Regions from separate parts of the Homo sapiens genome. Here region 1 is linked to region 2. Evidence: fine-mapped expression QTL. A gene starts in region 2. The other region holds a variant in brackets. All regions are shown on one strand. Distances are between the middles of the regions.

Evidence for each region. PIP is the estimated chance that this variant, and not a neighbour inherited with it, causes the effect.
Region 1: its variant is fine-mapped to the expression of ADK in whole blood (INTERVAL, PIP above 0.99).

Annotation. Positions count from the first base shown.
Region 1 is chr10:74,333,286-74,341,625 of GRCh38, forward strand. All of the region lies in intron 4 of ADK (adenosine kinase), which reads left to right. Among named protein-coding and RNA genes, the nearest start is that of ADK, 190 kb to the left of the region's middle. The variant AT/A (reference allele first, on the strand shown) is at 4,475.
Region 2 is chr10:74,146,612-74,154,934 of GRCh38, forward strand. ADK (adenosine kinase) reads left to right here and starts at 4,610. Exons shown (of 11, transcript NM_006721.4): 1 at 4,610-4,732. The coding sequence starts at 4,668. It overlaps AP3M1 (adaptor related protein complex 3 subunit mu 1), which reads right to left and starts at 4,217. Exons shown (of 9, transcript NM_012095.6): 1 at 4,144-4,217. RefSeq lists enhancers at 4,141-4,370, 4,781-4,960.

The DNA of each region.
Region 1 (8,340 bases), 190 kb after region 2:
TATTGTACAAAGGAAAATGTATTACATTAGGAGGGGGTATGTTGTACTTTATTTAGAGAACTAGTGCAGGGATACGAATGAGAAGTATAACGCCATAGAAGGCATGAGCATTAGTAATCCAGTCAGAGAGGAAGAATTTTGCTGCCTCCCATGTAACATAAAACAGATGTTCCATTCTATTAGAACCTTACTAAAATGAGAGTTTAGATCATTGGTCAATAGGAGAAACATGAACAATGGCAATTTAATAATTTTGAGGGTTTATCTTATTTGTGAGTTAATATCCATGGTGGGGAGTATGAAGGGATGCCTGCCAAATGTTATTTTATTTTTGATATCTTGATTGAGAGAGCTGAAAGGCAACAGTAAGCTATACTAATTTTTAATTTATTGTTTTGCAAATTTAATCTATTTTTTTCTCAAAAACTGTTGTAAGAAAAAAAGATTTCAAAATTATAAGTCCTGATTTAATGCTTGAATAGGTATTGAAGCATATCTGAAAGTATAATTAATTAACCTCAAATGAATACTGTAAACATTAAGTAGTTGGCAACTGAAAGTAGACGTATGCAGAAAGGGACACCAGGGATGGTACCACAGGGTCCTGGGTATATTTTTGTTTTTTTAAGGGAAGATTTACTTTTTTCTAGAAAAGAAATTCTTTTCAAATAAATTTATTTTTCAAAAAATACTTTTTTTCAAAAGTATTTTTTCCATTTTAAAATTAAGTTATAATTTATATACAAAAAAGTGATCTTTGTAGTGTATGTTTCTGCAAGTTATGACACATGCACAGTCTAGCAACCAGTATCAGAAATAAGATAGAGAATAGTTTCATCACCTCAAAACTTTCCCTGTGTCCCCTTTGTAGTCTTCCTTTCCCCTACTTCAGCCCTTGGCAATCCCTGCTCTGTTTTTGTTGACAGAGACAGTTCTCCTCACTTGTTTGTGAAGACTGTAAGGTTCTGACTGCCCTTTTTCCTGGGACATTTCTCAGGGTTATATATGCAGCTGATAAACTTGAGACATGAGATAACATCTGTTCCCAGACAAAAAGCAAGCTTATTTACTGCTTGCTATAAAATTGGTGGATTCCCTGAGTTCAGTGCTTCTCATTTGCTGATGCAAACTCACTACAAGCATAGCATCCATCTGAGCATCCCCAAAGGACTTGGGATGAAGGGAACTGATGCAAATGTGCTGATGTTCTTCTGTTTTGTCATAAGTAATGAAGTGTTTTTTCTTTGACTGAGGAGTCTTGTGTCTTCTGCCTGCATCCATGAATTAGTTAAGAGGCTTTTGTGTTAGCTTTTATTAAATAGGGTAAAATCAAATCCCAGTCTCCATAATTTTCTGTTTGTATAGTTTTGCCTTTTCCGGTGACTTGTATTGAGGGTTCCTGCTTCTGGCCAACAACCTATGAGTGATTTTTTAGGTCTGATCATAAGGCATTTACAGAGGTTTTCCTGGCAGGCTTCATAGGGGGAGGGCTGGTCTCCAGAGCAGACTTGGTGCAAAGCTTTTATAGTCTCTGAGGGGAATTGCAGTCAAGGACCCAGCCATCCTCTTATACATATCTGCGTTCCTAGCCTAGGTGCCTTCATTCAGAGGCCTCTTTATGTGGGGCTTTTGGGGAGGCTTTCCTTAAGTGTCTCTGTCAAGACTTTATTGGGGAAAAGAGGGGAAGACACTTACCAACTCTTTCTCTACTATGACTTGTACTTTTCTGTTTCTAACCCTTCCCTCTCTAGCCTTCACTCGACTCCTGGGTCTGTAAAACTGCCAGAATCTTTTGTTGGGGGTTCCCTTTGGCAATGATGCAACCCTCACATTTGTGCTGGTCTACCTGCCCTGTGACCAATGTGCCATGCCACAGGGGAAAATGGAATGGGGGGTAGCTGGCACTTTCTCCAATTTAGCCTCTTATACTGTCACAGTGATTACAGACCTATTCTTTATTTTATTTTATTTTATTTATTTATTTTTTTGGCTTGTTGCCATTGGCTGTGCCAAAACGTGGCAGCCCAGCTTTCTCCAGCTCTCCTGAGGTACTGATACACACAAATGGAATCATGTTGTGCATAGCCTTTGAATCTGACTTTCTTCAGTTGACGTAAGTTCATCTTAGATTCATCCATTTGCTTTGTCAATAGTTTTTAAATTTTAATGGCTGAGTAGTTTTCTATCATCGTGATGTACTGCACCTTGTGTCTCTATCCACTCTAGAGGGATATTTGAATTGTTTCTGGTGATTATGAATAAAGCTGCTAAAAATATTTATACGTTTTTGTGTTAACATAAATTTTCATTTTACTAGATGTATTGCCAAACTCCTTTCCAAAGTGGCTGTGCCATTTCACATTCCCACTAGTAATATATGAGAGGTCTAGTGGTTTCACATCCTTTCAGCACTTGATATTGTCAGCTTTTATTACTACATCAATTGTAAGGGGGAGAGGAGCATCTCATTGTTTGTTTCTACTTCCCTAATTATGTGAAGCACATTTTTATATGCTTATTTGCTATCTGTATATGTTCTTTGAAGAAGTATCTCTTCAAACTCTTTGCCTTTTTTTTAAAAAAAATTGTGTTTATTTTTGTTACAGAGTTTTGAGAATTCTTTATCTGTTCTGCAGACAAGACTTATCAGATGTGTGATTTGCAAATATTTTCTCCTAGTGAGTGGCTTGTGTTTTCATTTTCCTAACAATGTCTTTCAGTGAGCAGAAGTTCTTACAAATTTATGTACTTTTAAAATGGATTATGCTTTTGTGTCATATAAGAACTCTTTGCCTAATCCAGGGTGAGAAAGATTTACTCCTATATTTTCTACTAGAAATTTCATAGTTTTACTTTTTACATGTAGATCTGTGATCCATTTTGAGTTAAGTTTTGTGTATATTGGGTGAGGTCTGTAACAGAGTTTTTGATTATTGTTTTTTGCTATTGTTTTTTGCTTTGGCATATGGATATCCAATTGATCCATTACTCTTCCCTGAAGTCTATTTAAATCTCTTTAATTGCCATTGTACTTTTTTGAAAATCAATTATGTGGTTGTATATCTATGTTCCATATTCTGTTTCATTGATCTATATGTCTCTTCTTTCTCCAATATCATACTTCTCTGATTACTGTAGCTTAATGTGTTTGTTTTTTTTGCTGTCTAATCATGGAAGTTGAATTTATTGCATTTTACAGGTCAATATTTTTTGTAGTTGTAGACGTCTGTAATTTTGCACTGTTAATTTTAATGTAATGGACATATTAGAAATTAGGTTTTCAATATGCAGGGGAAATGCTGTTAATTTACAATTGAAGAGAGTTATGAAATAATAATAAATAGAAAAAGTAAATAGAGAAAGGAAAGTACAGTCATCCCTTAGTGCCCATAAGGGATTGGTTCTAGGACCCTCTGTGGATACCAAATCCATGGATACTCAAGTCCCTTAAATGGCATAATATTTGCACATAACCTATGCATATCCTCCCATATACTTTAAATAATCCCCAGATTGCTTATAATACCTAATACACTATAAATGCTAAGTAAATACTTGTTATACTGTGTTATTTAGGGAATAATGACAAGAAAAAAGTCTGTACCTGTTCAGTACAGACTCAACAACTATCCATTTCCCCCACTTCCAAGTATTTTTGATCTGCTGTTGGTTGGTTGGTCTGCAGATGCAGATCCCATGGATATGGTGGGCCTATATATATGTCTTATTTATTGTCACTACCTTTTGCTTCCAAGTATTTTTTATTTTTAATGAGAGTTATTTTGTTGTGGTGGGTGGTTTAACATACATAAGTTTTCCCAGCAGCAGAACCCTGAAGCAAGGATTTTAGAACAAAGTCTACTTTGGAGACGTATGTAACAGGCAAGAATTGATGCAAGGAAAGCAAGGCAGCTAATGAAGACTTACTAACTAAACTAACACAATAGGTTGCTGGAGCTTTATCTTGTGGGATAATTCTGGGAAAGTCAGTGTCAAATTTAGTTTCGGGACTAACTCACCTGAAGTGTGAGAGAGTGAGTATATTTCCTGTTACTGGTTGTGGACTGCCATACAGAAGACATTGCACCTGCCTGGTGCTGTGGTGGGCAGAGTAGCATTCAGCCATTCAGAGGAAAGCCCTGAGGGATACAGAGGAAGATACTGGCTATTGGAAGTAATTTGGAATGGTGGGAAAGGGTTAGGTCCAAAGGATACTGTACAGACACTGACATTATCTGACTCATGCCTTGTGAATTTTAAGTGCCTTTCCTGGGTTATCAAAGTGAATAGCTTTAATCAAATCATCTCTATAAAGACATTTCTAAGTAAATTTTCTATACTTACACTCCTCTACTTTTTATTACTACAGCTGGCTTCATTAGCTTTTTGTATATTAATCTGTGTTGTCCTACTATTAGCTAGAAGAGCTTACTAACTGTGAGCTTGAAGATATTGTATATTCCCTCTTCGGATG[AT/A]TTTTTTTTTTTTTTTTTTGAGTCAGAGTCTTGCTCTTGTAGCCCAGGCTGGAGTGCAGTGATGCAATCTCGGCTCACCGCAGCCTCCGCCTCCCGGGTTCAAGTGATTGTCATGCCTCAGCCTCCCGAGTAACTGGGATTACAGGCACCTGCCACCACGCTGGGCTACAAATGTATTTAAGAATCTTAAATGAGCTGTGATTGCACCACTACACTCCAGTCTGGGTGACAGAGCGAGACCCTGGCTTCAAGCAGTCCTCCTGCCTCAGCTTCCTAAAGTGCTGGGATTACAGGCATGAGCCACTACCCCTGGCCTAAATTCCTTTTCTAGCCTCTATACAGAATTTCTAGGATAACAACAACAACAACAACAACAAAAACTTAAATGATAAAAATGAATATATAAAATAGCAAGTAAGCCATGTAAAATATTTTCAATATTCTTAGCCATTAGAGAAGTGCAAATTAAAACTATAAGATACTGCTGCATACATATGTGGATAGCGAAAGTAAAAACTGGTGAGAATACAGAATGAATGGATTTCTCATCTGTTGCTGATAGGAAAATGACACAGCCACTCTGGAAAACAGTTTGGCATTTTTAATAAAATTAAAGATAAATATTCCATATGACTCAGCAATCATATTCCTGAGTATTTAACATAGAAAAATGGAAATTTATGTATATGTAAAAACTTGCTACACAAATATTTACATCAGCTTAATTTGTAATTGCCTCAAACTGGAAAGAATCCAGATAACTTTCAACAGGTGAATAGATAAACAAACTGTGATATATCTATCGAATGGAATACCAAGCTTTGTAAAAGAATAAATTACTGGTACAGTCAACAGTTTCCGTAGATCTTAAGTTCATCACACGAAGTAAAAAAAAAGCTAAACTCAAAGTGTTACATACTGTATGATTCCAATTATATAGTATTACTTAAATGAAAAAAAATTAGTGTTGGAAAATTAACCTGTCATTCCAGGAGTTAGAGATAATGTGGGAGAAGGGGATAGGTATGACTATAAGGGAGTTGCAGGAGAGGGCTTCTTTGTGGTGATGGAATAGTTCTGTGTCTTAATTGTGCTGGTGAGTACATGAATCTTTACAGCTGATAAGATTTTATAGAATAGTACACACACACTAAGAACAATGCATGTAATGTCTACTTTGGGGAGCTTTTTTTAAAAAAATTTCTTTTAAGAGACAGTGTCTTGTTCCATTTCCCAGGCTGGAGTGCAGTGGCACAATCATAGCTCACTGTAGCCTCAAACACCTGGGCTCAAGGGATTCTCCTGCTTCCAGCCTCCCAGGTAGCTAGGACTATAGGTGCATGCCACCATGGCTCGCTAATTTTTTTATTTTTATTTTTTGTAGAGATGGGGGTCTCACCATGTTGCCCAGGCTGGTCTCAGTCTCCTGGCTTCAAGCAGTCCTTCTGCCTTGGCCTTCTAAAGTGCTGGGATTACAGGGGTGAGCCACTGCCCTGGCCTAAATTCCTTTTTTAGCCTCTTCACAGAATTTCTAGGATAACCAATATAAGTAAAGTAGATGTTATTTTTAAAATGATCCACTTTATACACTAAATTAAAAGACAGTCTTGATTTCTTCAAAATTCTTTGCTGTGAAGTGAAACGTTTGGTAATCATATATCTTGTTGACATAAACATACAGATTCCTCTGCATGTAACATTCTTTTCCTTCACTTTACCAATTTGTGCCCATTTCACGTATCTCAGCCTATATCCCTTTTTCATGATCATCTTACCTCTGACATAACTCTTTCACCCACCAAATCTGTGTTTGGTGTCATTTCTATGATGGTCCCATACAAAGCTGGACTCATTTTACAGATGCAAAAAGTGATGAAATAATGAACAAGTTAATGGCCCAACTGAAACTGTGGTGTTGGACATAAACTTTAGAATAAATCCTAAATCTTAAGTGTGCAAATAAATTATTCAAAACATGAGATTACCTAACCTATTCTAGTGATATTTAACAGAGATATGTTTGTAACTGGTGGAAGAAGAATCACTCCCTAGGTACAAGATCAATTACTGTTCATTTTATTCACCTGAAGATAAATCACTTTCACAGATTTTGCAGACTACTTCTTTTCCTGAAAAAATGATTTATTAAAGTGGAGGTTTCTTTACTATATCAACACTGGCTTACTCTTTTCTTTATAATACTTCTATACTGAAAGAAGCCAGAGGCCAAAAGTAGTCTTGTTTGTGCTGCTCTTTATTTCATTGTTATTTTTAAACCAGATGATGAAATTCCCTTCCATTTTGAAGGGCCATTTTTCATGTACATAGGAGGGAATTTAAACTGTTTGAGTTAATATTAACATATTCTATTACTATAAATTGGTTTTAGTTTGATTTTAAAATAGCATATTAATTTACATTTAATTTTAGTATTCAACTCTGATCAGAAAAATAGTATTTTGGATGTAGGGGTAAGGAAAAGGTGTGAAATTCCAGTTAAAAATCTAAAGTACTGTGTTTATTGTTTCATTGTGTGTCTGCATTTAGTATTGTTTGTATGAGAAAAAGTCAGTTGTTTCCTTATATTCCCATATAATTTTTGAGTAGTATGACAATCTTCATTTATATACCTGATGACTTTTAATTTTTAAAATGTTGTCTAAACCAGGTTTCAGGTGATATATCTTGCTTCCTAATTTGACAACTCTGAATATTACTATTGAAACTTGTAAGCAAGTAGAAATTAAAATGAAGCCATACATAGCATTTGCTTTGATTAAAAAGAATAGAAACCTAGACTGTTTTGGAAAATTCAGTGTATATTTCAGTGTATATATATTATGTGTTTATATATTGACAGATCTGGGCATCAGAATAGAGTCAAGAAATAACATAAATAGAAATTCAGTAAGAACACATATGAAACTGGAAACCAGTGGAGGAAAACTGAGGAATTGCTGTTTGTGAGAGACTTATTTTTCACTCAGTATACTTTTTTTTACTGTTTTAATTGTCTATATAGCATGCTGCATATTACCAATTTTAAATACTTAATTTTGAAAGATTAAAATGGCTGGCAAATTTATTGCCCATTTGCAAAGTACATTTATATCAGGCATAGTACAATATGTAGAATGTTATTGGAACATTGGAACATTGTGTCTGAAATACTTTTTTAAAAACCTCATAAAATATGAAAATACTTCTTAATGATTTCAATATTAACTCTATTCATTAGACATCTATCATTATCCTTTATGTCAGAAACTTAGAGTGAAATCTTATTAGCTTGATTGAAGAACACTTGTTCTCATTTCATTGTGCTATAGTTAACATTCAAAGTTAAAGTTATTTTTCTTCTCCTTGATAGTATACTATAATAAGTATATTCAAAGTGATGCTCTAGATTTGTTTCCTTCACATTTAGACTTGCATTTTTACAATGTTTATACTAAGGTTTCTTACACTTGCCATAGTATATCTGTGCGGTGGCTTACTCCTGTTAATCCCAGCAATTAGGGAGGCCCAGGCAGGTGGATTATGAGGTCAGGAGTTTGAGACCAGCCTGGCCAACATGGTGAAACCCTGTCTCTACTAAAAATACAAAAAAAAAAAATTAGCTGGGTGTGTTGGCGGGTGCCTGTAATCCTAGCTACTCGGGAGGCTGAGGCAGGAGAATCACTTGAACCTGGGAAGGTGGAGGTTGCAGTGAGCCGAGATCCTGCCACTGCACTGCAGCCTGGACAACAAGAGCGAGACTCCGTCTCAAAAAAAAAAAAAAAAAAGGATTTTTGCAATCATTAACTTACTTCTTGCTGTCTGTTTTTATTGTCTTTGGCTGTCCTTCTTAACTTCTTCAAAGATT
Region 2 (8,323 bases):
CAATTCTGGATACATCTGACCCAAATAAATATATTCAAAAAACTATTATATATACCCTTCTGGTGCTTTAGAGAAGCCAGATTGGAATCAGAATTGTAAGTAATCAGGATTTTTTGTTAATGGGAATTAATCAAAAGGAGAATTGAAACAAAAGAAAGAATGTGCATAGTATGAAGAGAGCTTATGGCAGGAACTCCAACATTTGAGTAGGAGGTGGGTCAAGGAAGTGGACCTAAAGAATGACCAAGATGTGACTGAAGAGTCCTAAGAAAAAAAAAAAAACAGGGTGGTTTTTAGTAACTATAGCTTATTAGTGTATTTCCAGAAGAATGGAGTGGTAAATACTGTTACATGGCACAAAGAGGTTAAGCTACGAGAATTGAAAATGTCAGCTGGGCGTGGTGCTCACACCTATAATCCCAGCACTTTGGGAGGCCAAAGTGGGAGTATCACCTGAGCTCGGGAGTTCGAGACCAGCCTGGCCAACATGGTGAAATCCCATCTCCACTAAAAATACCAACAAATTAGCTGGGTGTGGTGGTGGGTGCCTGTAATCCCGGCTGCTCTGGAGGCTGAGGCAGGAGAATCGCTTGAACCCGGGAGGTGGAGGCTGCAGTGAGCCGAGATGGCGCCACTGCACTCTAGCCTGGATGACAGAGCGAGACTCCATCTCAACAACAACAAAAAAGAATTGAAAATGTCTGTTGATTTAAGAGTGTTTTTTAAACTTTCTTTTCCTTAATGCCTGCTAAGGAGCCCTTTTAGACTCCATCTTCTCACCACCCTGCCAATCAAATTCCTCACCCATAAAACTTTTTATTATTCTTTCTTTTTCAACTGTAAATTGACAAATTATAGTTGTATATATTTAGGGGTACCAGATGTTATGATTTATGAAATGTGGAATAATTAAATGAAGCTAATTAATATCACCATAAAATTTTAATACCACAGAATATTCTCTGTTTATGTATTGTATTTGTGCTTTACACATAAAAAGAGTATTATATTTTTTTCACCTCACAAGAAGCAGTTTTTATCTGCTTTGAGAATGCATGATTTAACACACAGAGGACACTGGTGATCTTGGTAAAGGTAGTTTTGGTGGGCTGGGTGCGGTGGCTCACACCTGTAATCCCAGCACTTTGGGAGGCTGAGGCGGGCAGATCACGAGGTCAGGAGTTCGAGACCAGCCTGGCCAACATGGCGAAACCCTGTCTCTACTAAAAATACAAAAGTTAGCTGGGCATGGTGGTAGGCGCCTGTAATCCCAGCTACTCGGGAGGCTGAGGCGGAAGAATCACTTGAACTCTGGAGGCGGAGGTTGCAGTGAGCCGAGATTGCCATTGCACTCCAGCCTGGGCGACAAGAGCAAGACTCCATCTCAGAAAAAAAAAATAGTTTTGGTGGTAGTTCAGTGGAATGCTAGAAATAAGACATTGCAGTGGGCTGGGAAATAAATAGCAAGAAGTGTAAAAAAATAGAGATATGTAGAGTAGATTCAAGAAGTCTAGCTGTGAAGAGGATGAAAAGACAGGAAAATAAATGCAGCAGTTCATAAAGTGAAGGAAGAATACATTCAAATGCTGAAGGAAAGGTGTGAATAGAGGGGGAAAAGCTGACATAGGAGAGAGGGAAAAACGGAAAGAGGACCCTGACATAGCAGGAGAGGATGCTACTGAGAGACTAGGTCAAAGGGTTTGCCTTCTCTAAGGAGAAGGAACACTTTCTACTCTTCAGATTGAAGGGAAGGTTTGTATACTTGACTGCAGGCAGATGATGGCTCTCCTTCTCTGTGTAATGGGAGAGAGGTCATTTCCAAAGGGAGAGAGAAGTCCTCTTCTCTGTAAATACCATGTGCTACTCATGAATTGACACAGTACTGAGCTACTTAAAAATATTTAAATCTGCAAAGAACTCCCATAGCGTATGTGTATATGTATTTTTTTTTAAGAGATAGGGTCTTGTTTTGTTGCCCAGGCTGAAGTGCAGTGGACCAATCATAGCTCACTGTAACTTTGAACTCCTGGGCTCAAGTGATCCTTCTGCCTCATTCTGCCTCTACCTCCTGAGTAGCTAGGACTACAACCACATGCCACAAAGCCTGGCTAATGTTTAAATTTTTTGTAGAGATGGAGTCTCGCTATGTTGCCCAGGCTGATTTCCAGCTCCTGGCCTCAAGTGATTTTCCCGCCTCACCCACCCAAAGTGCTAGGATTACAGGCGTGAGCCACCGCACTCCATCTGCCCATAGTATATTGGTTTGTTTTTTTTTTTTTTGAGACGGAGTCTTACTCTATTGCCAGGCTGGAGTGCAGTGGCGCAATCTCAGCTTACCACAACCTCCGCTTCCTGGGTTCAAGCGATTCTCCTGCCTCAACCTCCCGAGTAGCTGGGACTACAGGCACGTGCCACCACGCCCAGATAATTTTTATATTTTTAGTAGTGACGGGGTTTCTCCATATTTGCCAGGATGGTCTCGATCTCTTGACCTCGTGATCCACCCACCTCAGCCTCTCAAAGTGCTGGGATTACAGGCATGAGCCCTACCGTGCCTGGCCGTATATTATATTAAATGGTTAGAAATAAAAATCATAAGATTAAGTAAGAAAATATAATCTTGTTGCAAAGAGAGCTTTCCTAAAGATACGTAAGGTTTTTTTTTTTTTTTTTTTTTTTTTTTTTTTTTTTTTTTCGAGGCAGAGTCTCGCTCTGTCGCTCAGGGTGGAGTGCAGTGGTGAGGTCTCAGCTTACTGCAACTTCCGCCTCCCGGGTTCAAGGGATTCTCCTGCCTCAGCCTACCAAGTAGCTGGGACTACAGGCGTGTGCCACCACACCTGGCTAATTTTTGTATTTTTAGTAGAGACAGGGTTTCACTATGTTGGCCAGGTTGGTCTCGAACTCCTGACTTTGTGATCCGCCCGCTTCAGCCTGCCAAAGTGCTGAGATTACAGGCGTGAGCCACCGCGCCTGGCCAAGATTCGTAAATTAAGATAATTCTTCATTAACCTCATTCACTTCACTTCTCCTATAGTGTCAATTGAAAGTGTCCCTCTGTCTTTCCCAAATTAATCCTTTCACTTGTAACTTGATCCCATTCCTTTCCTTCTCTTCTGGGAGACAAGACTTTTTCTTGAATCTTCAAATAGTTGCTTGCTTCCTGCCCCCAAATAGATATCTTGTATTCTTTAAAACAAACCCCAAACTTTCCCCCACCTTGCCACTCTCAATAATCTTGCTTCATGCCCCAAATGATGAAGGATTGGTCTACACTTGCAGTCTTTCCTCAGTTACTATTAAAGCATCTCTCTCAAACAGCTCAATGACTTTCTAATTATAAAATCCAACGACCTATTCTGATTTCAGCTTCCTCCTCTGACCATTGCAGCATTTTATGTCATTGATAACTTTCTCCTAAACAAAAATACTTCTTACCCTTTTATATGAAACTTCATCTGTTTTGGGTCTCACCTTGAAAGTCTTTCGGGCTTAATTCTCATAATTTTTTTTAAAGTCTTTCTACAATCTCCATGTAAACCACTGTTTCAAATTCGATAAAACTCAAACTCCATAAAATACCTCCTCCTGTCACTGGCACCATCTTCTTAATCACACATAAGGCTGTAAGTTTCAGGTTCAAACAAATCTACCAAATACAAACAGCCACATCGCCCGTCACTCTTCCACACTCACTGCCACCTGCTCAGCTTAGAACCCCGTTACCTCTCTCCTGAAGAACTGCAACACCCTTCTCACTGCATTCCTCACCCCAGGCTCTTCCAGGCACCACCCGCTAACAGGACGTCTGCTCAGGTCCGTTTGGGGTTTTGTCCTCCAAAGCAGAAACCTGGGACTGAGATTCCTGCCGTCTGTACTCCAGCTCACTATAGAGGGGGAACCCAGTAAGCTTGACCTCCGGGGCTCAGGCGCCTGAGAACACTGGGCTGCAGGTGGACCGCTCCCTTCTGGCCTTGCTGGCGAGAAAGCCCGGAAGGCCGGGAGTGGGGGGGAAGCGAGGCCCGGGCCAACAGCACCAAAGACGCTCCTAGAGCCCAGATCGGAGTCGGGGGCCCCAGCTATTCAGCCTACTCCCGGGTTTTGGAGCTGTCCCCAGTCCACAGATTTCCCGCCCCTCACACTCACCCCAACACCTGTGCCAGTCAGTGATTCGGCGCCGGATCCTCTCCTACCGAAGCTGGAGAAGCCGAGAAGGCCGCGAGGACCCGCAGCTGGAGTGCCCAGGAAATTGCCTGATTAACAGCTTCAAAGACACCGACTCTGTCTACCGTATTAGAAATTTTAAATATGCAGGAAGACCGTAAATGAGAGGAAAGACGTCTCTTGAGGCTTAGTATCTAAATCTTCTACATAATCCAGGGCCTAGAAAAATGGTGGGTTTCTCTCCATCTAGATTCAGGCGGTCATCTGCTGCCTAACGCAGTCTGGGGTCCCTCATGGTAGGGGAGGCGGGGTCAGGAATGGGCGGGGCATTCGCTGTTGGTGCCGACGGATAGAGCCAATGATTGTGGATGACAGCGGCACAGAATGGGCGGAGTCTGGAGGGGCGGGATTTGGAGAAGAGAAAGCGGTGATGCGAAGAGGGGGCGGGACCAGAGAGTGGATGGCAGAGGTGGGCTGTAGAGCCAAAGTGGGGTGGGAGCGCGAAGATGGCAGCTGCTGAGGAGGAGCCGAAGCCCAAAAAGCTGAAGGTGGAGGCGCCGCAAGCGCTGAGGTGAGCGCTGCCGGACTTGGGGAGGAGGGTGACGGCGCTGCAAGCAAGCCAGGGCCCACGTGGGGTTGCACGGCCCCGACGCTGGGTGGTGTCTCTCACTGCCAGCTTGGGGCCAACACGCAGGACCTCCCCCAGCTGCCCGCTTGGCCGCGACCCCTTGCCAGACGTTCTCTCCGTTTGGCTGAGTCCCCGCCTGTCTGGTGCAGCTCCGGCTCCAGCAGCCCTTCGCCAGTCGTGGCCCGCAGGGGGACCGAGCTGGCTGACCGCGCCACCTGCGAGCAAGCCCAGGCTGGGCTGGTGCGACCCCGGAGGGTCGGACCGGAGCAGCGTCTGTAGGCGGCCGCCTTCTCTTCCCGGGGGATGGCGGGAAAGAGGCTCGGCAACTGCTGTACACTGGGGCAAAGTCAGAATTCTTGGGGATTTTTCAGAGTGTTGCGGAAGGGCACGTTGACCTTCCTTTTCGTGCACATTCTGAAAGCCCGTACCTTTGAGGACCCTCTACCAGGGACCCAGACCCCTCCGATGCTTTGCAGGGGCAGCATTTGGATGAATGGATAGGAAAGGTTGATTTCTCTTTTTTATTTACACTTTTTGGCAGCAACGGGGACAGTGCTGCCCCTAACACCTGCCTCACATGTGATTGATGTTGCAACTTTTACTTATGAAGAGTCATTTGTTAAAATATCCCTTCCTAATAAGTATAAAGTGAAGCAGGCAGTCTTTGATGATTTGGAAATGTTCGCTGAAAGGCAGCGATTTTTTTTTCCATCTTAAAATAGACATATCAAACTGATTTAAAACTATTAGGACACTCCTGATTAAACAGGACATATCCCATTTCTTCCAGTATCACTCTTCTTCACCTCCAAAGGAAGGAATCACTCACAATTGAAAAGAAAAGGACACTTAGGGGCCTGGTGGTGTGTTCATGCTGCTTTGAATGGAGGGTGAACAAATCCTTGCCAGTTCCTTTAATGTATTCCTACTACCCTCAAAGGGTTAGTGTGCCTACCTTATACCAAGAACATAAACTTTAAAATAAAAACCCTCAGGATATTCTATTTTTATTTTAAATATTCCAACTATATGCAGAATAAAAAGCAACGGCTTTTGAATCAGACCTACCTGAGTTCAAGGCATGTGCTTTCCCTACTCTGCCCTTTATTAGAGTATTTCCTTATAAGGCACCTCCTTCGCCAAACTGGAAGACAGATGCAACTTTTCCCTACCATCCTACTGAACATATAACCCTTAGATTTCCTTAGATTTTTCCTTAATAAAAATTATTATATATAATGCTGATCCATTTTCACTGTGTTTTCCTATTTATTATCTTGTTGGACAGTTCTGTGATCAAAGGAAGGCAAGAATTATGCCTATTTTACAATTGAAGATATTGAAGCCCAAATAAAACAATTAGTACAGGAACAGAAATAGGAACTAGCTGAGCATGTTTTCTTATACCTGCAGTCCTGGTGCTTTGTGAGGCTGTGGTGAGAGCATTCCTTAGGCAACTAAAATTCACTTTATACAATATGAATTTAGTGCCACCTGTAGACATGAAGTTAAAAGATTAGACACTTGAGTACTGGGACAAATCTCTAATTTTGTGGGGAGACATTTTAGGATCGGCTATTATTACTTTTATTATATTAATTTGCTTTCAGACTCAAAGTGTGATAATGCATTGAGTATTTACACTGAATTTATGATGACTTGCTTGACAGGGGATTGCTACTGGTTTTGGTTAAGGAGAATGGATTATAAAGACTTTGCATAATTTAATGTGCAGCATCAGTGGGAACAAATAATGAGATATATTTGTAGATGTCAGGAAAAATATTTAGATTTAGGGATTTGTGAGAATTTGGTCAGCTCTGGGATAATAATTCTCCACCAGGGGAAATTTTGCCCTCCAGGGGACATTTGGCGTGGTCTAGAAAGATATTTTTGGTAGGGAGAGCTATTGGCACCTAGTGGATGGAATTCAGGGGTGCTGCTAAACATGCTACATAGGACAACCCCCACAACAAAGAATTATCTGGCCAAATACGTCAACGGTGTTGAGGTTGAGAAATCTGTTCTAGAGGGAGCATCTGACAAGACTAGTCTGCCTTTCTCAAATATCTATTATTTTTCTAGGCTCGGTTGCTTTTCAGCATATAACAGTTGCTTATAAAGAAAGAATCAGGCTCTGACATGTTTTCACGTGGGATTAGGGGAAAGAAGGGAACGTTAATTGAGTGCTAGACATTATACTATGTGCTCTATATATGTTATCTCTTTTAACCCTCCCAGTGACCTATGAGGTAGGAGCAATGATTCCTGTGTTACAGACGAGCTATTTTGTGATGAAAGAAGTGGAGAAACATTTTTGGGAACTGCTCCCTAGATGAAGGTGTTCCATGATGATCACTTATATTTAAGACAACTTAGTTTTCTTTTCTCTCCTTTGGAAATCTCATCCAAGTTCATTTCTTTAGCGATCGCCTCTTAAGAGGCTACAGTGCCTTCCAAGGCTTGTTGAGCACGTGCCAAGTCTTTTCCTTCAGTTTGTCTTTCAAGTACATGCTATTTTAGACATGGTGTTAAAAACTGGATATATATAGAGAGAGAAAGAGGTAAGGCACAGGTACCATCCTCTTGGTGGGAAATAAGTGGGGTTTGGGAAAATGACACCTGAGTATTCTTAAAGATGACTAGGAGTTAACCAGTCATCTGTGACTGTAGGGTATCTGTGAAGTAGGGTATCTGCCTTATAGGAAAGTTTGTTTGGTGGCAGAACTGGGAGAGAGCTGCCTCTTGGGGAAGTGCAGATAGTCTGACTGAAGCAGAGATGTATGGGGTCCAGGCTTTGTATTAGACACTCTCACATGTGTCCTTTCTATCTCTGTGCCTCTCAGTTCTCAGATCTTAATTTAATTTAATTTTGTATATATTTTTGAGTTGGAGTCTCACTCTGGCGCACAGGTTGGAGTGCAGTGGCACCATCTCGGCTCACTGCAACCTCTGCCTCCTGGGTTCAAGCAATTCTGCTGCCTCCGCCTCCCAAGTAGCTGGGATTACAGGCGTACACCACTATGCCTGGCTAATTTTTGTATTTTTAGTAGAGACGGGATTTTGCCATGTTGGCTAGGCTGGTCTTGAACTTCTGACCTCAAGCGATCCACCTGCCTCAGCCTCCCAAAGTGTTGGGATTACAGGTGTGAGCCACCGTGCCCTGCCTTCCCAGACCTTAATTTTTACTGTCTGCTGAGTATGTGCTTCTGAGTGACTTTCTGACATTTCGAAGTCATATATACCAAACTAAATTATCTGTTATCCTGAATCTGTGCATTTTTCCATATTTCCTGCATCTGTTAATGGCACCAGTAACCTCCTTTACTCCAAAGTTTGAGACCTAGATATTTGATTCATTTTACATCCACATTATAATGTCTTTCCTTTTCCATTCCTGCTGCCACACCTTACGTTTAGACTTTATCTTTTGCTTAGATTTTGTTTTGACTTCCTAAGCAGTCTCTTTACCTTCAGCCTCAAGTTCTGCCTACTTTTCTTTAGGCACAGCTCTACTTATTCATCACGGCAAAT